Homo sapiens: one gene and its partners. The protein of the gene in region 2 purifies or fractionates together with the protein of the main gene of each other region. This does not show direct contact. Each region holds a gene or a part of one and is shown on either strand. Other genes may lie near its edges. The genes, in order: GPN2, POLR2M, USP47, INPPL1, POLR2D, RPRD1A and RPAP1.

Evidence for each region.
Region 1: the proteins of POLR2M (region 2) and GPN2 purify together in Homo sapiens (affinity purification with mass spectrometry; 4 studies listed by BioGRID and IntAct, with this or other methods). This does not show direct contact.
Region 3: the proteins of POLR2M (region 2) and USP47 purify together in Homo sapiens (affinity purification with mass spectrometry; 4 studies listed by BioGRID and IntAct, with this or other methods). This does not show direct contact.
Region 4: the proteins of POLR2M (region 2) and INPPL1 purify together in Homo sapiens (affinity purification with mass spectrometry; 3 studies listed by BioGRID and IntAct, with this or other methods). This does not show direct contact.
Region 5: the proteins of POLR2M (region 2) and POLR2D purify together in Homo sapiens (affinity purification with mass spectrometry; 5 studies listed by BioGRID and IntAct, with this or other methods). This does not show direct contact.
Region 6: the proteins of POLR2M (region 2) and RPRD1A purify together in Homo sapiens (affinity purification with mass spectrometry; 4 studies listed by BioGRID and IntAct, with this or other methods). This does not show direct contact.
Region 7: the proteins of POLR2M (region 2) and RPAP1 purify together in Homo sapiens (affinity purification with mass spectrometry; 5 studies listed by BioGRID and IntAct, with this or other methods). This does not show direct contact.

Annotation. Positions count from the first base shown.
Region 1 is NC_000001.11:26,883,784-26,887,283, forward strand, and holds part of GPN2 (GPN-loop GTPase 2), read right to left. Parts: intron 2,351-3,500; coding exon 2,190-2,350; intron 508-2,189; coding exon 377-507; intron 1-376. UniProt on the Homo sapiens protein: Small GTPase required for proper localization of RNA polymerase II and III (RNAPII and RNAPIII). May act at an RNAP assembly step prior to nuclear import.
Region 2 is NC_000015.10:57,709,714-57,713,213, reverse strand, and holds part of POLR2M (protein GRINL1A), read right to left. Parts: intron 1,231-3,500; coding exon 1,026-1,230; intron 1-1,025. Other genes in the region: GCOM1 (GRINL1A combined protein), read right to left, coding at 1,026-1,230.
Region 3 is NC_000011.10:11,959,680-11,962,387, forward strand, and holds the end of USP47 (ubiquitin carboxyl-terminal hydrolase 47), read left to right. Parts: 3' UTR 1-2,208; downstream 2,209-2,708. UniProt on the Homo sapiens protein: Ubiquitin-specific protease that specifically deubiquitinates monoubiquitinated DNA polymerase beta (POLB), stabilizing POLB thereby playing a role in base-excision repair (BER). Acts as a regulator of cell growth and genome integrity.
Region 4 is NC_000011.10:72,234,767-72,237,206, reverse strand, and holds part of INPPL1 (phosphatidylinositol 3,4,5-trisphosphate 5-phosphatase 2), read right to left. Parts: intron 2,092-2,440; coding exon 2,004-2,091; intron 1,912-2,003; coding exon 1,756-1,911; intron 1,533-1,755; coding exon 1,454-1,532; intron 1,362-1,453; coding exon 1,221-1,361; intron 84-1,220; coding exon 1-83. UniProt on the Homo sapiens protein: Phosphatidylinositol (PtdIns) phosphatase that specifically hydrolyzes the 5-phosphate of phosphatidylinositol-3,4,5-trisphosphate (PtdIns(3,4,5)P3) to produce PtdIns(3,4)P2, thereby negatively regulating the PI3K (phosphoinositide 3-kinase) pathways.
Region 5 is NC_000002.12:127,843,053-127,845,604, forward strand, and holds the end of POLR2D (DNA-directed RNA polymerase II subunit RPB4), read right to left. Parts: 3' UTR 501-2,552; downstream 1-500. UniProt on the Homo sapiens protein: Core component of RNA polymerase II (Pol II), a DNA-dependent RNA polymerase which synthesizes mRNA precursors and many functional non-coding RNAs using the four ribonucleoside triphosphates as substrates.
Region 6 is NC_000018.10:36,022,560-36,026,059, forward strand, and holds part of RPRD1A (regulation of nuclear pre-mRNA domain-containing protein 1A), read right to left. Parts: intron 3,120-3,500; coding exon of another isoform or gene 3,039-3,119; exon of another isoform or gene 2,327-3,038; intron 1-2,326. UniProt on the Homo sapiens protein: Interacts with phosphorylated C-terminal heptapeptide repeat domain (CTD) of the largest RNA polymerase II subunit POLR2A, and participates in dephosphorylation of the CTD by RPAP2.
Region 7 is NC_000015.10:41,527,258-41,530,757, forward strand, and holds part of RPAP1 (RNA polymerase II-associated protein 1), read right to left. Parts: intron 2,723-3,500; coding exon 2,607-2,722; intron 2,312-2,606; coding exon 2,213-2,311; intron 1,080-2,212; coding exon 978-1,079; intron 771-977; coding exon 603-770; intron 349-602; coding exon 166-348; intron 45-165; coding exon 1-44. UniProt on the Homo sapiens protein: Forms an interface between the RNA polymerase II enzyme and chaperone/scaffolding protein, suggesting that it is required to connect RNA polymerase II to regulators of protein complex formation.

The DNA of each region.
Region 1 (3,500 bases), on a different chromosome or scaffold from region 2:
TTCAAAAAAAAAAAAGAAAAAAGAAATTGGGTGGATCACAAGGTCAGGAGATCAAGACCATCCTGGCCAACACAGTGAAACCCCGTCTCTACTAAAAATACAAAAAATTAGCTGGGCGTGGTGGTGGGTGGCTGTAGTCCCAGCTACTCAGGAGGCTGGGGCAGGAGAGTGGCGTGAACCCGGGAGGCAGAGCTTGCAGTGAGCTGAGATCGTGCCACTGCACTCCAGCCTGGGCGACAGAGCAAGACTCCATCTCAAAAAAAAAAAAAAAAAAAGAAATTGGTCATCCACAAGGTTGATGACTGCACCTCCTGTGGCCATTCTTGAGTCCCATGTCTCACCCTCTCTGCTATGGCCAGGAAGCTGGCAAGGATACGAAGAGAAATGGAAGTCGGCTCCCATTGCGGCAGACATCATGGCTTCCAAGCTTCGCTGCTCTTGGGCTCTGAAACAGTATCCATTGGCTTTATCCACAGCCTGCAGGACTCGCTGGATGCTCTCCTTGTCCTGAGCAGGGAGGAGAGAAACAGTTCTGTGAGTGAAACAGAAGTATGTAAAACTGCTTGCAATCTCTAAATACACCTTCCTCCATCTTGCCTCTGTACCTGTAGCTTTCTTGGCCTGGAGTAGTTCTACATGTCCCCAAAGGCTGGATAAATCTCATGTTTCCTGACCACCAACTCACTCAGATTAGAACAGATAAGCTCCCCTATGCATATCCACAGTCCCCTGGGTTTACACCTATTGTACATGGTATCCCTGCCATGTAATAAACGCCTATTAACTCACCTGCCTCCCCTACTCAACTAAACACCCCTTAGGGCCAGGTCATCTGTCGCAGTATTCCCAGTGCCTGGCACAGTACTTCTCTTAAGTAGACATCCAATGAATATGCATGTTTTAAATCTATAACTGGGCCAGGCACGGTGGTTCACACCTGTAAAGCCCAGCACTTTGGGAGGCCAAGGCAGGTAGATCACTTAAGGTCAGGAGTTCAAGAGCAGCCTGGCCAACATGGTGAAACCCTGTCTCTACTGAAAATACAAAAATTAGTTGGGCATGGTGATGGATGCCTGTAATCCCAGTTACTTGGGAAGCTGAGGCAGGAGAATCGGTTGAACCCAGGAGGCAGAGGTTGCAGTGAGCCAAGATAACGCACTGCACTCCAGCCTGGGTGACAGAGTGAGACTCCGTCACAAAAAACAAAACAAAACAAAAAAAAACTATAACTGTTTCCTCATCCACATACAGTGATAAGAACAGTCCATATATCACATGGTGGGAAGGACAAAGCAAAATTATGTATGTGTAGTCCTTAGCACAGTGCCCAGCACAGAAAGCCATAAATAAGAGGTAATTGTTGTGATTGATATTATAGAGTTCATCTCCTCATATCAGAAGAGTGTGGCATTAGAAGGGAGGAGACAAGTTAGCTCAAGTCCACCCACTGCAGAAAGGAATCTAACATGCACCTGCGTCTCCCAGGTTATCTCTGCAGGGTAAAGGTGAGAGGCACAGGGGTTGGGTACCACTTTGCAAAGTCAACAGACAGTTGCCCAGTTGAAAGGGCTTAAGAGACTTGTCCCTGGTCCTGGTGAACTTTCTTGCTGATGACTTTCTGAACTCACCCATTTTCACAGAGGACAGAACATGTGAAGAGAGGATCCAGCAACACAAAATAGACAGGGCAAAAGTTTGGTCCACTCTCTTTACTGGAATTCTGCCCCTACAGCAGCCCCTGGTCCTGAAACTAAGGTTACTCTCAGTGATACTCAACCCAGGGCAAAGACCACTCTTTTTTTTTTTTTTTTTTTGAGATGGAGTCTCACTCTGTCGCCCAGGCTGGAGAGCAATGGCGTGGTCTCGGCTCACTGCAAGCTCTGCCTCACGGGTTCACGCCATTCTCCTGCCTCAGCCTCCTGAGTAGCTGGGACTACAGGCACCTGCTACCACGCCCAGCTAATTTTTTGTATTTTTAGTAGAGACGGGGTTTCACTGGGTTAGCCAGGATGGTCTCGATCTCCTGACCTCATGATCTGCCCACCTCGGCCTCCCAAAGTGCTAGGATTAGAGGCTTGAGCAACCGCGCCCAGCCGGCAAAGACCATTCTTTAAGCCCTCAAAGCTTCCTGTGCTTTTGGCTTGGTGAATCCCATGCACTGTCAAGAGTCCCGTCTTAGCCCCTAGTACCTGGATGTTGAGAGGGATAAAGGAGACAAGGCTATAGTCTTCGATGAGCTGCACTAGCTTCTCATTGAGCTGGCGGTAGTGGCGGAAGAAAGGGTCAGAAGCCAGGTGGTCAAGCAGGTAGGAGAGGTCCAGAACCTCTGTGTAGTAGTCCAGGTTGAAGGCTAAAGAGAGAAACCAGTGTTCAGGAGCAACCAGTATCAGGCTAAAGACCTGAGGACGAGGTTCCTTTTTCCTTTTTTCCTTTGTGCACTCATGCACTCAAATATTTCTTGACACAGTAAAATGAAGTTACTAAGAAAAAAAGCATTTGGTTTTACCTGCTGGCTCTGCTATTTACTAGCTATATAGGCAGGTATCTACTTCATAGGACTGTTATGAAGATTAAATGCTATAAACCCCAGTGTCTGGTACAGAGAAGTGCTTGATCAATAACTGCAAACAGGCTGGGCACGGTGGCTCATGCCTGTAATCCCAGCACTTTGGGAAGCCGAGGTGGGTGATTACCTGAGGTCAGGAGTTCAAGACCAGCCAACATGGTGAAACTCCATTTCTCCTAAAAATACAAAATTAGGCCAGGTGCGGTGGCTCAAGCCTGTAATCCCAGCACTTTGGGAGATGGACGGATCACAAGGTCAGGAGATCGAGACCATCCTGGCTAACACGATGAAACCCTGTTTCTACTAAAAATACAAAAAATTAGCTGGGCGTGGTGGCGGGTGCCTGTAGTCCCAGCTACTCAGGAGGCTGAGGCAGGAGAATGGCGTGAACCCAGGAGGGGGAGCTTGCAGTGAGCCGAGATCGCGCCACTGCACTCCAGCCTGGGCGACACAGCAAGACTCCGTCTCAAAAAAAAAGAAAAAAAAATACAAAATTAGCCGGACGTGGTGGCACATGCCTGTAATCCCAGCTACACGGGAGGCTGAGGCAGGAGAATCGCTTGAATCCAGGAGGCGGAGGATGCAGTGAGCCGAGATTACACCATTGCACTCCAGCTTGGGCAACAAGAGCGAAACTCTGTCTCAAAAAAAAAAAAAAAAAAAAAAGTTGCAAATAATGATAACAAGTATGTACCAAGAACTGTGCATGGTCGTCCTCACCTCACAGAGCTCATAGTCAGGTCATACCCTCAGGACCTGGCACATACACTGCAAAGACTCTGTAAATGGTTAAACTGAATAAATGCTACATTCTAGCAGGGTAGCCTCCTGGGTAAATCACTTTCCTTTTCTGAGCCAGTTATTTCTTAATGTAAAATAAGGACTAGATGATGCTGAGGTCCCTGATTCAGTTTTATAAATCATTTCTCACTAA
Region 2 (3,500 bases):
TGTTGTTTTTTTTTTTGAGACAGGGTCTCACTCTGTCACCCAGGCTATACAGAGTGCAGTGGTGTGACTGCGGCTCACTGCAGCCTCGACCTCCTGAGCTCAAGCAATCCTCCTACCTCAGCCCCACAGGTAGCTGGAACCACAGTTGCATGCCCCAATGCCCGGCTAATTTTTTGGTAAAGATGGAGTCTAGCTATGTTGCCCACGCTGGTCTCGAACTCCTGAACAGTCTGGTGTTATACTAGTTGGTGCACTAGTACCTGACTAAAATCTAGCTAATCAATACCTAGGAAGTGAGACAGGATACTGTTCTCCTGGAGGCTAAAATTATTACTAAATACTTCTAAACTTTTCTGTTCCCCTATGGTCCTTCACACTTATTTTCTCCCATCCCATTATTCTGTATACAAACTCTCAACATACATGTTTGAAGTTCAATGCAAAACACATGGAAACAAAGTGCTATGCAAAATTGATTAAGCTGCCAAAAGCAGGAGATATTTCTCTCTTCACATGGGCCTGCAGATTATGCTCTAAAGCAGTGTCTCACTGTCTGCTGGCTACACAACATTATCCTCCCACTCCTTCTATGCCCTCCCCTGTACTGCAGAAGATGGAAGCCTGGGAACTACATTCTCCTCATTCTCTAACAAGGGGTCTGGGTTTGAGTCCGCCACTGAGAAGCTGTCACATGAGTTTTACAAGGTGAAAGGGAGAGATGCGATGCTACTACTATCCTAACAGGAACAGGCAGGTAAATGAGCTTTAAGACATGAAATTCTACAAGTCTCCCCACATCTCCAGGCAAATCACCACTTTAATGTTGAAGGTAGCTGTGATCATCTCTAGCTACTTCCTGCAGTTCTAGCAACTTTGTGACTCTCTGAAAACTAGTGGCATAGATCTGAGCTCATGGAAGCACCTAATCCCCTCTATTCCATTCCTTCCTCCTTGAACCTGGAGTAAATTCTAGCTTATGTAAGCAGCACCCAACAAACAGACAAGAAAAAAAATACTCTAAATACCTCATAATTCTGTTTCTGCTGTTTCTGAAGTGCCAAGGATTCTTCTATGGAGAGCAGCTGCGTGGGCATATGGTGAAGTGGTAGAAGCCGAGCTGCTGTGATGTCATCAAGATGCTGCTTATCCCTGCGCCGCCGCTCTTCTGAGGAAATAGGAGACCCACTCTTCTGGCAATGACTAGATGAATCATTTTGTCGAAAAGGTAACCTGATGAAAGGAAAACTTGTGTTATACAATCAGATTATTTTATTTGTAGACACATTTAAAACATTCACACAAATGGCCTTTACCTTAGCAATTAATTCTCCTCCAAAGGTAACAGTAAGTAATTTACCAGTATTCATTGCTCTAACAAATAGGGGTGTGTTTGTGTGCATACAGGCTCTTTGCCTTTTCCTTCCTTATTCAAACCTTGTATTTCATCTGGAGTTTTTTTTTTTTTTTTCATTTATTCAAAGAACATTTGCAAAAGGGCTTATTGCCCAGTAGAAAGAAATACACATGTAAAGTTTCAGTGCAATACAATACCAGAGATACTGTGATAGATATCTCAACAAGATACATTGGAACATAAGGAAATGGCCAGTTCTAGTGGGAGACAGGGAGGCTAAGAAAAGTTTCAAAAAAGCTTTGAACAGTCTTGGAATAATAACTGCTTACCCATGTAAATAAGGAGAGAAGTGCATCCCAGCAAGGGGAGTGAGAGAAAGTACAGAAGGTAGACAGACTCAGCTTTTCTGGCTACACAGAAAAGACAGCGAGAAAGAGGGCTGGGAAGTAGCCTAGGCCCAGACTGCAATGAAGAGTTCTCCGTAACAAGTTCGGATTTCCATCTTACAAATTTCACTCTGGCAGCAGTGGAGATAGACTGGTAGTTAAGACTAGAGGTAGAAGGGGCCACAATTACAGCCCGAGAGAGATGAGAGTCTTCACTTCGACAGAAGATGAAGAACAATTATAGAGATGAAGATCAAAGAAATAAGTAGGTCTTCATGGCTAGCAGATATGGAGATGAGAAAAATCGAAGATACCTTAGGGGAAGAAAACCGAGAAGGTGGTGGCACTATTAGGGAATATGGAAATCACCTTGGAAAGAAACTGCAGTTCCACTTTGTACATCATTAAGCTGAGGTACCTGGGAACACCCAAGTGATCAAGTTTCATGGTTAATTGGCTATGCAAACCTAAAGTTCTGGGAAGATCTGGGATAGAGGTGCACAGGGGTCAGCCTCCAGCATCCAGGTGATACATGAAGCCAGAAGAGTATGCAGAAGGAAGAGCAGAAAGGACCCAAAGGACACTACCTGACCCCACCTTCCAACCTCCAAGCCACCTCTCACACGGAACCCTCTCAATCCCTACCTGTCTATGGCCTAAGGACTCCTCAAAGCCCTGCCTTTCCTGTTCTCCTCTAACTTATACAGGAGGCTCCCTGTCTCTTAAACTTCCTGAATTCTTGGTAGCCCTCTTCACTATTCCCTTACCTCTCTCCCACTCCCAGCTAAATGACCATAATACAGAACTGGGATTAATGTATTCTTTGTTTTATTTATTGACTAGATGATGGTTCTAGTTTTCTAAAATGTCATCCTGGAAGTGAAGAAAGATACCCCACTGTACACAAGAGAGTACTTGATCACGTTAATGTAGTATAATCCTGATTTTCTATACAGCAGAAATAAAATGTTTTGAGGTTAAAATGAATGCTGGGGTAGAATTAAAGTCTAACAAAAAAGAAGCATGTTTTAGATACTTTTCACTAGAGGTTTTCTGTTTTTCAAAGAAAGGTAGTAGTGATTTAACTTTGATGTTACATACTTGTAAATACAATATAGGAAGAAGGTACCAGTTACCTGAGTTGAATGTTACATTTGCTGCAAGTAAATAGCAATTATTTTCAAAAAGATTTTACTTTTCCTGAAATTTCAGAAACAAATTTATGGCAAGGAACTGATAAGCAGAGTTTTTGCCTATCCTGCCTGAATCTATTTTCACAGTTTTTCAAACCTCTTCTCAGCTTCCTTCCCCCTGAAACTGTTATTATTATGTAGCTTAACTCTTTTCCAAGTGTGTAAACCTTGGGTCCTCATGTAGCTCTTAAACTCCTTGAAGAACATGGTATTGTATTACATTACACATGTATACATTACAGCCATGTTTTTAAACTTGAGATTTAACATCAAAAAAGGCAAAGGAGTTTTAAGAATCTTGACTTAATTGTGTCCCCACAACACCTGCTGCTTGCTTACATACAGTGAGCATGCAAATAATTTCTGCTGGAAAGCCCATCAGCTCCTGCAATTGCTTTACCCTTAGTTCACAGACTAATCAAAGAGAGTACACTTTGATAGTACACTAATCAAAGCTGTACACTAAAAAATGGTTCTGAAAAAAAGAAGTCATAATAAATTCTCTCCAACTCTGTGTTTATTATGAAATACTGGCTAAGCATCCTAAAATTTAACACTCCCCCATGT
Region 3 (2,708 bases), on a different chromosome or scaffold from region 2:
GAGTGCAGCCATCAGTAGGTCAAGCTAGGAGGGCAAAAGAGAGTTGAGAGGAATGCTCTGCCCCTTCCCCATCACAGCACTGCCCCTTTCCACCTCCTCACCAGCTCACCTGTACAAGAGAATTGATCTCAACTGAGTGTCAGCTCACCAGGTCAGAAATTGTTATTGGACCCTAAAACCTTGCCTCACAGGTGGGCACCAAGCTCCCCTTCCCTCTGCTTTCCATGTTTCCCACCTGCCCTCTCCCCACCTGTTTTCAGCCTCTTTTATAATGCTTAAGTAACCTGCTTGAAGAGTATAATTTATGGAGATAAAAATACTCAATGCTTACATTTTTTTCATAACTGTGCCAATTGTTTTGTCAAATGCAGTTACCCACTGGGCAGTGGGCTTATCAAGTGCTCAGTGCAATCCTGTGACTTTTAAGTCATTTTGCATTATTAAGACAATCTTATCTTAAAGTTCAGTGGTTTCATTCAAAGCTCCCCTGAACCTCCATAGTGCCTCCAAGATGTGCTGTCCCTGCCAACTCCTGCACCAGCTTGACTGGTGGTGGAAGAGGCCAGGAAGAGCGGGGGGAAGACATGTGCTAACCACTTCTTAGCAATGAGGCTGGTAAGGTTACTGTCCCCTTGTGCCTGGTCACTAGTAACTTTTTTGTAGACATGAAGGTAGATGCCCTGCAGGTCCTATCAGCAAAGGACCCAACTCCTAACAGCATTGGTGCTCCCTCATGAAATTTGACAGTGTCTTGCCAGCCTCCTGCTGGCAGACACTTCTCTGCAGTGAATACCACTATCCCATGCTGCACTAGTCCCTACCAAGTCTTCAACCCTCAATTTGATCTTCCATGAGTGTCTCAAAAAGTTCCCCTCAGAAGTTTCAGCCAAGGGAATAAAATCTAACCTCTCCTCCCTCAACGGAGTGTCAGGGAGGGGAAGAATCTGTTTTCCAAACACCACAATCTCCCAAAAGGGGATTTCACCCTCCCTTGGTCATCTTTATACAGGGCAATTGTGCTGCTGCTGCTGAGGTGGCCACTTTCAGCAAGCCCTGTGTGCAGGGGCCTAGCTGCATTTAGAAACCAAGCATAGCTATCAAAAAGTAATCTCCAAATAGTTGAATTGCATTTCTTGAGTATCTGGAGAGGATGTGCAGACCACAGGAATACCTAATGCCTTTTTTCTCTTCCTGTCTTTGTCCCTCACACTACAGCAGGCCCCTCCCTTCCCTCTTCAACCTCATCCTCCCTCCCCACAGGCCCAGAGAACCAGTTGGGCTTTGTTCTCCTGCAGGCTATGGTTCATCATGCAAATAGCTCCTGTGTCAGAAATGCTTTTTGGCTTCAAATAACAGAAAAGCTAACACCAGCTTTATCAATAATAATATCGGTGGTTTACTTAAGGTGTCCAGAGATGGTGGAGAACAGGATTGGTTTCCTCCTCAATGTCAAGGACTCAAAGACTCTTTCTGTGGTAGGGCCACATCCTAAACCCTGTATCCTGTGATTATTTACCTGACAGGGCAAAAGAGATTTTGCAGATGCAATTAAGGTTAAGGACCTTGACGTGGGAAGATTGTGATTATTTACCTGACAGGGCAAAAGAGATTTTGCAGATGCAATTAAGGTTAAGGACCTTGACGTGGGAAGATTATTCTGGATTATCTAGGTGGGCGCAATTTGATCACATGGGTCCCCAGAAGTGGAGAACCTTTCCCACCTGTAGAAAGCCAGAGAGCTGGCACCTGAGAAGGACAGAACTGTCATTGCAGGATTTGAAGATGAAGGGGCCCATGAGCCAAGGAATGCCAGTGACCTATAGAGGCTAAAAAACAGCAAGGAAATGGACTCTCCCCAGAGCCTCCAGAGGAATGCAGCCCTGTTGATCACATGATCACCAGATGGCTGCCCCAGAGCCAAATGTCGCTTCCTGAGCACCATACTCAAAGGCAGGGGAAGTGGATGGAGGGCAGGAGCTCCATTCTTGTTTGCCACTCTCCTTTTGTCAATTGGGAAAAAATTCCAGAAACTCTGGGAGCCCTCCCCTTACATTTCCTGGGTCATGGGGCCAGCCCTAGCTGCTGGAGGGACTGAGAACAGCTGTTGAGCAGTTTACCTGACGGCATCTGCCATGGCTTGGCAGGAACTCTGGCTTTGGGAGAGAGCAGCAGCAAGGTATTCAAGCACCACCTCCACCCAGCCCCTCCCACATTTCACTCAGGACTGAGTAAAGGAGACACTCAGATGCTACTCAGATGCTGGCTTCAGCTAAGTATTTTGCAAAGCCTCTCGTGTTCTTACAAGTTTGTGGCTATCATGACAAAATGGAGCAGCCTACTATATCTACATATACAACTATGGGGGACCTAGTTTTATCTCATTTACCACAATGTTTTCAATCATTTTTTGGATGACATAATTTTTAGCCTCTTCTCTAAATGCTTCCTCAAGCTTTCCTTGCCTTCCAGCCACTGCAAATGACTTGCAGTTTCCCCTACATGGCACCTGACCCTTGTGCCTCCCTCCCTCTGCCCATGGCCCAGAAAGCCCTTTCCTGTGCCCTCTGGCTTCCTGATAAACTCCTATCATCTTCAAGAGCCAGTTCCCATGCCAGCTCTCCCCAAGTGCTCCACTGAGGCTTCCGTAACACCTCTGTTCCCACATCGGGTTGACTGTCTTTGTTTTGTCATTGCTTGCTCTGGCTGTG
Region 4 (2,440 bases), on a different chromosome or scaffold from region 2:
CGTAGTAGGCAGGGTTATTGAAGCTGTTCTTGGGTGGGGGGGCCGCCACCCCTTCTGGTTCAGGAGCTCCCTCTGGCTTCAACCTGGGTGTGGAAGCAGAACGACTAAGCCAGGATCCAGGAACCCAGGTCTAAGGCAGTGGAAGCAGTGGAAGGAGAACTAGACGGGAGTCAGAAAGTCCCCTGGTCCTAGACTTTCTCATGACCTTGAGCACATCACCTGCCCTTAGTTTCTTCATCTCTAAAGGTCAGAGGGAGGATAACCCTTTGAATGGATAACCCTACAATCCCTTGCCTCACTTGCTAAGATACTTAGATCTTTCATGACTTTATCTGTAGCTGTGAAACCCAAGCTAAATGGGTCAGAATAGAGGTGCCAGAAGACAGGGCAAGAAGCCTCCAATGAGAGGCCAGGTTTGGAAAGCCTCTTGAGGCACCCACAGTCAATCCGCTGCAGAATCTTTCTCAGAGATTCAGGTGGGTCTTATTCAAGCCTAGGGATAAAACCGGGGTGACTGACAACAGCTGAAGATGAGTGAAAAAGCACCAAACTGTACCTAGGAGTTTATGTAAGTTTAAGCAACAATCGGATATAATTAGAAAGCAAGCCTCACTTTCCCAAAGTGTGACACAGAGCACTAATTCCCCAGAACGTTAATAGTTACTACATGGAAAATAAGTTTCCTGGCCCATTAAGTTTGGGAAACTATATTAAACAGAGCTGAAAAGAGGTTTCCTTCCTGTCCACATGCTCAGAGCTTTTGCTAATACTAACATGCACTGGGAATGTCTAAGAAAAGAATCTAGAAAAAGCATTTCCCAAACTCATTTGACCACAAACCCATTTCAACTGGGGCCTCTTGCAGGACAGAGTTCCAAAGAAGGTACCCTGGGAAATCCCAGGCCGAGCCATGTGCCTCCTCCAAATAGAAGGCTCAAGCTAGGTCTGTTTACATGGAGGGAGCTGTCTTAGAAACAATTTCGCATTCCATTTTTAAAGGCAGAATTGAGAGGAAAGGCTGACTGCTCCCTTTGACTCAGAGCCACAGCTAAGGGTGGCCTGGCTGGCCACAGGCATAAGGCCATGGCAGCTCCAACCACAGAGTGGCAGGGCACCTAAGCAGCTGATGATCTCCAGGCCAACCCTGAGACCCTGCAGGGGATAGTGATGGATAGAGGTGGGTGGGGGAAGGGGGGGCGGTGACAGGTTCCTCCTCTCACCTGGGGGTCAAGGGCTCCTCCCGGGGAGCTGCTCGGGGTGGGGCTGGGGGCCTCCCCGTTGGTGGCGGTTTCTCTGGTTCTTCAAATAACCTGGAGAGCGGGCAGGAGGCCTCTGTGAAGGCTGGCTTGCGGCTCCCTGACCTGCCAGGGATGCACAGGAGAGAGATGAAGTGGGGTTGACCAGATGCCCCCAGGTACCCTTTCATATGACATTCAACACAGCCCTAGCTCACCTGGGCTCCTGGCTCCCTCGGGACACAGAGGGGGCTTTGCTCTTTGCTCCTGCCTCATCCTTATCAATGCTGATCCACTCTGAGGGGGCAGGAAGGGAGACTCAGAGGAGACCTGGGCTCCTGGATCCCACAGACACCCAGTGGGCCTGCCAGCCCTTTCCCAGCTATGCCTTGGGGCAGGACTATTCCCAGCTGTGGCTGCAGAACCTCCAGGTATCCCAGAGATTCCAACATGCCCCCCGCACCCTGCCCTCCTTGATCTGTTCACACCACCCTATCTCATGTCCCAGTGGAGTCCCCACCGTAGAGCCGCTCACGGGTGCCCAGGCGCTCCGTGGGCACCCGCACCTTCATGGAGCCTCTGATATTGCCTGTCTCCTCGCCACGGTGGGATAGGAAGGTCAGGAACTGTTGGGCCGTGCTGCCGATCATGGATTTGAGTGCAACCACACACTCCCCTGAGGAGCAGATGGGACAAACCAGCAAATTACCAAGCTAATCTAGGGCCCTGTCTGGCTTCCTGTTCCCCTCAGCACCCCTCACCCCTCACCATAGGATTCATAGCCATCCATGGACTTGACTGTGAGCAGGAGGTGCTGGTCCTGCAGGTACTCGATATCAGCCAGAATTGGTTTGAGCTGGGAAGCAGGGAGGCCCAGTGAGGAACAAAGCCCCGCCACTTCCTCCTGCCCCTCCTACGCGCTGCCCCCTGACACCACTCAATCCCCACCCTCAGGTCATCTGTGCTCACTCACACTCAACTCTTCAGAGAAGAGCCAAATCCTTAATGCAGAAGACACAGCCCTATACAGGCCTTTTACAGCACCTAGCATCACTGTAACTAATTAATTTTCTCAATAGCTAACACAGGACCTGACATCTAGCAAAAGCTCAAGAAGCATCTCCTGAATGAATGAACAAACTGCAACAAGGTTCCACACTCCCAAAATAAAGCAAACGCCTTTATCCTCACTCATGCCCATGCCC
Region 5 (2,552 bases), on a different chromosome or scaffold from region 2:
TGTTTAGTTCCAAACTGCTCTTCCGCTGATGAAGAGAGGAGAGCCGGGTGTAGGCACAAATACTGATCAGAATCTACCCAGGACCTGCAGTCTCCCTAGTCCCATCTCCCATTCAGGAGTTGCAAACAGGTACTTTTATCTAGTCAAAGATCTTTACAGAAACTTGAGAGCTGTAACCACATATATTTCCTCAATATTTCTCACCGCAATTGTTAGGTTAGACCCTGACAACTGAGCCACACCACTACTGGGACTGACCCTTGACCCAGAACTCTCCCCAAGGAAAACTTCAATATGAGCTGGATATTCAATAACATGCAATACTTGTCAATGTTCCTAAGTGCTATAATGCCCCATTCCTAGCAATGAAATACAGATAAAGCAAATAGCATGTTATCCGTTACATCAAGATGGTGAACACACAGGTATCAATGTACTAGTCTTTCCAGGTTTTCTGTTAAGTATAAAATTTTTTGTAAAAAAATTATCTGACACCAGTGGCATATTTAGTGCTTTTTATTAACAGTATTACTAAGGCAACTCATCGATGCTGAAGTCCCATCCAGTATGCTATTTTTCATGCCTCAGGTCTAATAAATCTTAATAAAACCAGAATGACTAGATGCTATGGTCTGAATGTGCCCCCTCCCACCCAATTGATACATTGAACCCATCACTGATGTAGTATTAAGAGGTGGGGTCTTTGGCAGGTGATTAAGTCATGAGAGAATATCCCTCATGAAGGGGATTAATGCCCTTATAAAAGAGGCTGCGGGCTGGGTGCAGTGACTCATGCCTCTAATCTCAGCATTTGGGAGGCGGAAACAGGTGGACTGCTAGAGGTCAGAAATTCCAGACCAGCCTGGGCAACATGGCGAAACCCCGTCTCTACAAAAAATAAATTAGCCAGGCATGGTAGCTCGTGCCTGTGGTCCCAGCTATCCAAGAGGCTGAGGTGGGATGATCGCTGGAGAGTGGGAGATTGAGGCTGCAGTGAACCTTAATCATGCCACTGCACTCCAGCCTGGGCGACAGAGCAAGATCCTGCTGTATCCAAAAAAAAAAAAAAAAAAAGCCTGGTCCTTCCATCCCTTCTACCATAAGGAGTGTTCATTCCCTATGGAAGATGCAGAAAAAAAGGCACCATCTTGGACCAGAAAGCCGCCCTTGCCAGACACTGAACGTACCAGCACCTGGATCTTGCATTTGCCAGCCTCCAAAACTGTGAGAAATAAATTCCTATTATTTATAGGTTACCCAGTCTAAGGTATTCTGTTACAGCGCAGGAACAAACTAAGACACTAAAACTTTCAGAAAGACTTATCTGGTTAATTTAGCTTTCTGGTGAAGTGAGGGTTTGACAACCTATCTTTTTGTTGTATCAGTATGTTCCCAAATTCTTTCCTGATTTTACACAGTACAATGAGCCTAACAATGTTTCACAAATTGTGCAAGGTCTCCTAATAGCTATTTTTCAATAGCAATATGCTGTCCAGCCCTGTAAACAATTTTTGACTGTCTTGCAGAATAGCTGACCAGGCTTTCAACCTACAACAGCATGAGGTTGCTTTACCAAGTTCCCTAGTATGAGCTGCTTTTTATTATTTTATTTTTTTTCAAGATGGAGTCTCGCTCTTGTTGCCCAGGCTGGAGTGCAATGGCATGATCTTGGCTCACTGCAACCTCCACCTCCCGGGTTCAAGCAATTCTCCTGTCTCAGCTTCCCAAGTAGCTAGGATTACAGGTGCCCGCCACCACACGTGGCCAATTTTTGTATTTTTAGTAGAGACAGGGTTTCACAACGTTGGCCAGGCTGGTCTCGAACTTCTGACCTCTGGTGATCCACCCGCCTCGGCCTCCCAAAGTGCTGGGATTACAGGTGTGAGCCACCGCGCCCAACTGTGAGCTGCTTTTTAAATCTGCTTTTAATCACCTTGATAAATACCACTGATTAGTGCCTAACTATGTGCCAGAGCATTATATACTTCAGTATTCTCAGGTAGCTCACAGAACCCCTGGCACATAGGTGGAAACACCAGTAAAGATGGTAGCACCGTGCTCCTCAGTTGCCATCTAGCACACGCCTGGATCGTCTGGGCTGCCTTCCAAGTCTCTTCTTCCCATTCCACTGCTTTAGTGCCAATCAGCACATGTAAGTGCCTCTCTCAAGAAATAATTCTGCAGTACTCACTTTGGCAGCACATATACCCAAATTGGAACAATACAGAGAAGACAGCATGGCCACTGCCCAAGAATGACATGCAAATTCATCAAGCATTAAAAAACGAAAGTTAACTGTAGATTTGGGTAAGCAATTTCACTTTTTTTTTTTTTTTTTTTTTGAGACAGTTTCGCTCTTGTTGCCTAGGCTGGAGTACAATGGTGCAATCTTGGCTCGCCACCCCCTCTGCCTCCCAGGTTCAAGCAATTCTCCTGCCTCAGCCTCCAGAGTAGCTGAGATTACAGGCATGCGCCACCACGCCCCGCTAATTTTGTATTTTAAGTAGAGACGGGGTTTCTCCATGTTGGTCAGGATGGTCTCAAACTCCCAA
Region 6 (3,500 bases), on a different chromosome or scaffold from region 2:
GCTAAATTTACTCTGCCTGTGCTCTATAAAAGAAACAAGTATAGATGACAATACATCTATTTACAGCATAGTTTACTGAGTATTTTAAGCCAACTGTTGAGACCTGCAAAATATTACTATTGGCCAGATGTAGTGATTCCCACCTGTAGTCACAGCACTTTGGGAGGCCCAGGTGGGAGGACTGCTTGACCCAAGAGTTCAAGACTAGCCTGGGCAACACAGCAAGAACTCTTCTTTACAAAACATTTAAAAATTAGCCAGGCATGGTGGCACACACCTGCAGTCCTAGCTACTTTGGAAGCTGAAGCAGGAAGATAACTTGTACTCATGAGTTCGAGGTTACAGTGAGCTGTGATTGCATGACTACTCCAGCCTGGGTGACAGAACAAGAGACTGTCTCCAAAATAACAATAATAAAAAATTACTATTGACAACATACCTGGTCACCCAAGAGCTCTGATGAAGATGTACAATGTGACTAGTGTTCATGCCTGCTAACACGTGTTCTGCCACTTATAGATAAAAGAGCAATTTTGACATTCAAGTCTCACTATTTAAGAAATACATTTCGTAAGGCTATATAGCTGCCATAGTCATTCCTGTGATGAATATCGGCAAAGTAACTGAAAACTTTCAGAAAATGATTCACAATTCTAGATGGCATTAAAAACATTCATGATTCATGGGAGGAGATAAAATATCAACATTAACAGGAGTTTGGAAGAAGTTTACTCCAATTCTCATGGCTGACTTTGTGGGGTTCAAGACTTCAGTGGTGAAAATAACTGTAGATCTGCTGCAAATAGCAAGAGAACGAGACACAGAAGTGGAGCCTGAAGATGTGACTGAACTGCTCCAATCTCATAAAACTTGTTGGTGAGGAGTTGCTTCTTATGGATGGGCAAATAAAGTGGTTTCCTGAGATGGAATCTACTCCCAGTGGAGATGAAATGACAACAAAGGATTTACTTGATAAAGCAGTAGCAGGGCTTGAGAAAATTGCTTCTAATTTTGAAAGCAGTTCTGCTGTAGGCAAAATGCTATCAAATGTACTGCATCCTACAGAGAAATCTTTCAAGAAAGAAGTCAACTGATGCAGCAAACTTTATCACTGTGTTAATAAACTGCCATAGCCACATCCTTCAGCAATCACCACCCTAATCAGTCAACAGCCATCAATATCAAGGCAAGACCCTCCACCAGCAAAGACTATGACTAACAGAAGGCTCAGATGATTAGTCTTTTTTAGCAATGAAGCATTTTTAACTAAGATACGTACATTTTTTATATGTAATTTTATATGTAATCCTAATGCTTAGACAACAGTAAAGTGTAATTGTAATACTTAGACAACAGTAAAGTTGTAAACATAACTTTTGTATGTACTAGGAAACAATGTCAAAGTCAAAATGTCATTTTAATTCTCCTATTCATGTATGCCTTCCAAGATAATAAGCTAACTGAAAAACAGTTTATGCAATACTTTCAACTTCATAATGGTAAAATGATTCCTATAGCAATCCCTAAATATTATAAATGTAAACTAAAGTTATTAATAGTCTATTTTAACAGTTATCTCGTGTGTGTGTGTGCACGCGCACGCGCGTGATGGAGTCTCGGTCTGTCGCCCAGTCTGGAGGGCAGTGGTGTGATCTCAGCTCACTGCAACCTCCACCTCCCAGGTTCAAGTGATCCTGCTGCCTCAGCCTCCCAAGTAGCTGGGACTACAGGCACCCACCACCACACCTGGTTAATTTTTTTTTTTTTTTTTTTTTAAGTAGAGATGGGGTTTCACCATGTCAGCCAGGCTGGTCTTGAACTCCTGACCTCAAGTGATTCACCCAGCTCAGCTTCCCAAAGTGCTGAGATTACAGGCGTGAACCACCACACCCGGCCCAACAGTTATCTGCTTCTGCTTAGTAACCAACTATAGTCAGAAGTTTCAAAAATAATGATTGTCTTAAAACACAAATTTTAAACCACTTCATGTTTTCATTCATTACACATGCTTTAATAATGGCTTCCTTAAGAAATATGAAATGGCCAATTCCCGAACTGATACTTTAAATTTATGTTCCATTATCAAAAATGCAGCAACAAATGACACATCAGTATCTGGTCAACCACTGTTAATGTTCAAAGATACACAATAGATGAAAATTACTTGATAGTATCACAGCTGATTCAGAAAACATAAATCTTCACCTCTCAGTCTCAACTTCAAAGTGATGCCACCTACTTGGTACAAAAAAGTCTAAATATCTCAAATCATTTCCACATCTTCTACAAAGGAATAACATAGTTCTAAGTGATAATTTACAAAGAGTTCTGTGGAATAACTTTCAAGTTTATTTCTGTACTTGTAAAGAGTATTTACTTGTTAAAAAACAGCTGAACATAATTGAGGTGATTTCTTCTTTATAATATAAAATCCAGTTATGCAGAAGAACAACAAAAAAAGTTCCTAGAAGGCTTTATTTCAAGACAGTGATTACCTCTGAGAAGAGAGGGAGCAGAAAAAGTTGGAAAAAATAGGACTTTAGCATTTGCTTTAATCTTAGATTTAAGTAAAAACAGGAAGCAATGTGTCTTTTTGATGAAGTGCACTGGCTCTGGAGGCAGATTCTCTGCGTTCCAAACAACTCACTAGCTCTTTGTGACCTTAGGCAAGTTACTTAATCTTCCTGTGCCTCAGTTCTGTATCTATCAAATGTGGATAATACATCCTGCTGTGTAAGATTAAATGAGTTGCTTATGTGAAGTGCCTAGAATAGTACCTGACACATGAATGTTAACATTATTATTATCATCAGCCTCATAATCTATGACTGTCAACTATGAAATGTGGCTGGAAGGCACTGGGGGAAAAGGGGGTTGTGGGGAGTGGCATCTGATCTATTTTCTACAGTTACACTTCAAATATAAATTCTGTTTTTGTAAACAGTGACAAATGACCATCATCATAAGTGAGAAAGTATAAAGCAGAATAAAGTTACAGTCTTCTCTTCAATTTTCAAAAACATGAGACAATACAGGCTTCAGGGTTTGATATTTATTTTTAGCAGGAAGAATATACTAATGGTGACGACATCGTTAGAAGATACGCCCATGTCCAATATCTGCAACAGAAGCTCAATAGAAGTTAAAGAAACCATACTAAAAGACTAAAGACAAAAATTGTATGACATTACTTACCCTTAATTCTGTGGACAATAAAACAATTAACACTATGTTTAAAATTGAGGTTTCATCACAAGGTGAAATAGTGGCAAGTTAATTATCAAATTCATCTTTTAAAAAAAAAAACCATCTTTTCCTTTCCATGTAGAAGTGGGCAACCTCTTCAAAGGTATAGTGGCCACCAACTATCATCATCTGAGGGTATTTATACGAGCAGAGAAGGAGTAAATTGCAAAGGAGTAGTGCTAACTTGAGAGCTGGGAATTTGAGGTGGGAATAATTAAGTAGCAGCTCCCATGGGTAGCAATGGCAATCTAATC
Region 7 (3,500 bases), about 16 Mb from region 2:
AGCACGTAGCGCAGCCGAGGCAGCAGGCTGGTAGCCAGGAGCCCCTGGGAGTTGGAGAGAGAAACCCACTGACAAATGCAGCTGGACCCTGGGCATTGATGGCCCCTCTTTCCAGCATGTGCTTGTCCCCTGGGCCATGGGATGGGAAAGAAGCTGTCCCTTTACCTTGATGACATCATGTCGGGCCAGGTCAGGTGGAGGCCGGCTTTCTTCTTCAGGGCTTTTCCTTTTTGCTTTTCCTGCTGGGCATTCTTCATCCTCGTCCTCATCCTCCTTGTCCTCCTGGCTGGGCATCAGAGGGAACGTCAAAGCTCCATGGTACCAAGAGAAGGTGCTGTCGAGGAGCTCCTGCCAGAGGAACGGGAGTTGGGGGGCAATGCTGAAGGGGCCAGGAAATGGATCCAGGAGTAGAGAGGATGCTCCCCAATAAAAACCATAAAGGCAAGCCTCCTGGGCTTTAGGGACTTTAGGAGATGAGGGAGACGCCTGCCATCCCATTCTACATCTTGCCCGCAAAGCCTTAGCAATGGGGCCATGCCCAGGAACAGGAATATGGACCCTGGCACCTCCCAGCCCAAGCCCCATTCCTATCCCTGTGGTACCTCATCTCCAGGAGCCACCAGCAGAGCCCGAAGAGCACGGATGGCGGTTGCAATGACCCCATCCACTCTGTCATCCAAGGAGAAGCGCAGTAGGAAGAGGAAACCAGCATCCAAAAGGAGGCTTAAGACACTGCCTGCTAGCCGGTCCCCAAACTCACCAGCCTGGGCCTGAGGGCAGGAGGGTAAAACCTTGCTGAAGATGCTGAAGTTATCTAGAGGCTTTGCCCTAATCCTTCGTTTGCCCCCCTATGATCCTAGGTTGTTAAAAGCACATAGCTGGCTAGTGAGCCAGAGTGAAAAGGGCAGGAGATGGGGAAGTCTGAGGCTGTGGGGTGAAGGGAAGGGTGGGCAGGACCAGGCTGGCAATCCACTCACCCTGCTGATGACCTGGGCTAACACATGCAGTGCCAGTGCTCTCTGCTGGGAAACCTGGCTGCGGGTCAGGTGGAACAGCTCCTGTAGGGAATACCCCGCTCTCTGGGGCAGGGACAAGAAGTCAGAAGCAGCCAGGATACAGCACAGTGCCCCCAAAACACCAAGCAAGGTATCACAGGAAAGACAAAGATAAATAAGTGAAATCTGCCCTGCTTTCCATGGAGCCTCAAGCCGGTAAAGATAAGACTTGCATACAAGTAACCATGCCATGAGGCAGATGCAGAGGAACGTGATAACTGATGTTTAATTTGCGACCGGCGGACAGGAGAGAGAGAGAAGGGAACCTGGAAAATTAAATTGGTCTCAGTGGATGGGTAGAGCTTTGATGGCCTGACATGGAGCAAAAGGCAAAGGCATTTCCTGGAGCGAGTGGAGTCCTGGAGGGCCCTGAGCACAGGAGGTATGTGGGGAGAAGCCAGCAGAGTGGTGTAGCAGGAAGTGAAGGAGGCAGAGCAGCAGGGTCAGCAGGGACAAAAGGTAGAAGGAATATCTTGCCCAGCTGAGACCAGAACCTTATTTTGTGAGCAGAGGGAAGCTGGGAAACTTCTGGAGGCAAGGCATGGCCTGAGCTGGGCCAGAAGAAATCAGCACAGCAGCCCCGAGAGACATGGAATGGCAGGGGGGCGGAGAATGGAGGGCATGGAGAGTGAGCAGACCAAGGAAGCAAGGCCACAGTGCAGGAGGCATCATGAGGAGGTGACAGAAGATCGGCAAATTCTAGCAACTGACCAGAATACGGAGAGAGGATCAAGATTTTGAGCCTAAGAAACTGAATGCCACGCCTGTAATCCCAGCACTTTGGGAGGCCGAGGCAGGCGGATCACAAGCTCAGGAGATCAAGACCATCCTGGCTAACATGGTGAAACCCCGTCTCTACTAAAAATACAAAAATTAGCTGGACGTGGTGGCATGCGCCTGTAATCCCAGCTAGTCAGGAGGCTGAGGCAGGAGAATGGCTTGAACCCAGGAGGTGGAGGCTGCAGTGAGCCAAGATCATACCACTGCACTCCAGCCTGGGCCAGAGCGAGATTCTGTCTCCAAAAAAAGAAACTGAATGCACAGCAAAGGCATGAACTAGAACAGGGCACACAGAAGGTCAAAGGCAGTTGACCAGAGATCCTTTTCCATGGGGTTGTTAAAAGAGCTGCCCCATCCTCTCCAGTCCCATGCCTCACCTCTGCCTCCTCTCCATGGTGGTGCAGACCCAGGTGGGTGGGCAGGTCCACGTCAGGGGCCAGTAGTTCTCCCTGAAGACTGAATCGAGCCTGCATCCTCTAATGGGAAGAGAAAGAGGACTGTGGTCTGGGGGCTCCAGCAACCTTCCCACACCCACTCCCCACCTTTAATCCCAGGCCTTTCAGGACTTAGGTACTGACTCTACTTCTACCAGAAATGGGGCTTATCTGGCCTTGGGGGCCAGGCAGAGTGATGGTAAAGGTGGGTGAGAGCAAAGGAGAGATGCTTCTCAGGCTCTGGGCAATAGAAAGGCCTGAGTTCTGAGGGCAAGAGCAGCAGCTCCTCTCCTGCCCTATCTCACCCACCCCTTGTAGGCCAGGTGGCCCTCCTCACCTCCTGTGTCTGCTGCCGCCGGACAGGGGGCAAGTCCTGGGTCCAGTGGAGCTTCTCCAGCTCGACAGTGTCCATGTGCAGCCATTCTTTCTGAGGGGTCACGGGCAATGCCAGAGCTGGGGAGACAAAGCATGATAGTATTACCCAAACGGCTCAGCTCACTATCCACAGGGGTCCCCACCATCACCCAGCAGCTGCCACATCCACTTCTGTTCCAGGATCTGCCAGCTTCTACCCTCGGTTATGGCTAAATGGCATGGCCCAGGGACTGGAACTCCTGGGGCTGGGGTGAAAGTCTCAAATATGACAGACACACTCCATCCTGGGCTCCAGCCCCTTGCTGACCCCAAGGATTTGTTGGGAGGGGAGAGAGGAGGAGAAGGAGAAGGAAGAAAGAGAAAGAAAGGAGAAAAAGATGAAGAAGGAGGACCACATATGTCAGGAAGGCACCATCTCCACTTTCCAGTACCAGCCCTTAAAGGAGTAGGAGAGTGGGGACAATGAGGAGGAGGCAACTATACTGCTCCTGGGGGGCAGGATACAGAAACAAATCCCACAGCATTTTCCTCCTTCACGCCTACCCCCACCCAACCTGCTCAGCTGGCCTGGAGCTCCTCCGGGGGCATGAGGTTCCTGGCTCTCATAATTCAATTTCTTATTTTGTTAATCACTAATGAAATAATCTAGTTTCTGGGAAATGAGTGCTTCCACTGGCCTCTCTGCTTCTGGTCTGGCATGTTCATAAGATCTTTGTCAGATTCTGCCTCTCTTATTACTCTGGCCCTGCCATCTTTCCCCCAGCACTGTGAGCAGAGAGAGAAAGAACAGTGGGATGGACAGAGCCAGAGCTGGGGCAGCTACAGCAAGGACAGGAAGATAGTCTGCCGGGAGCGG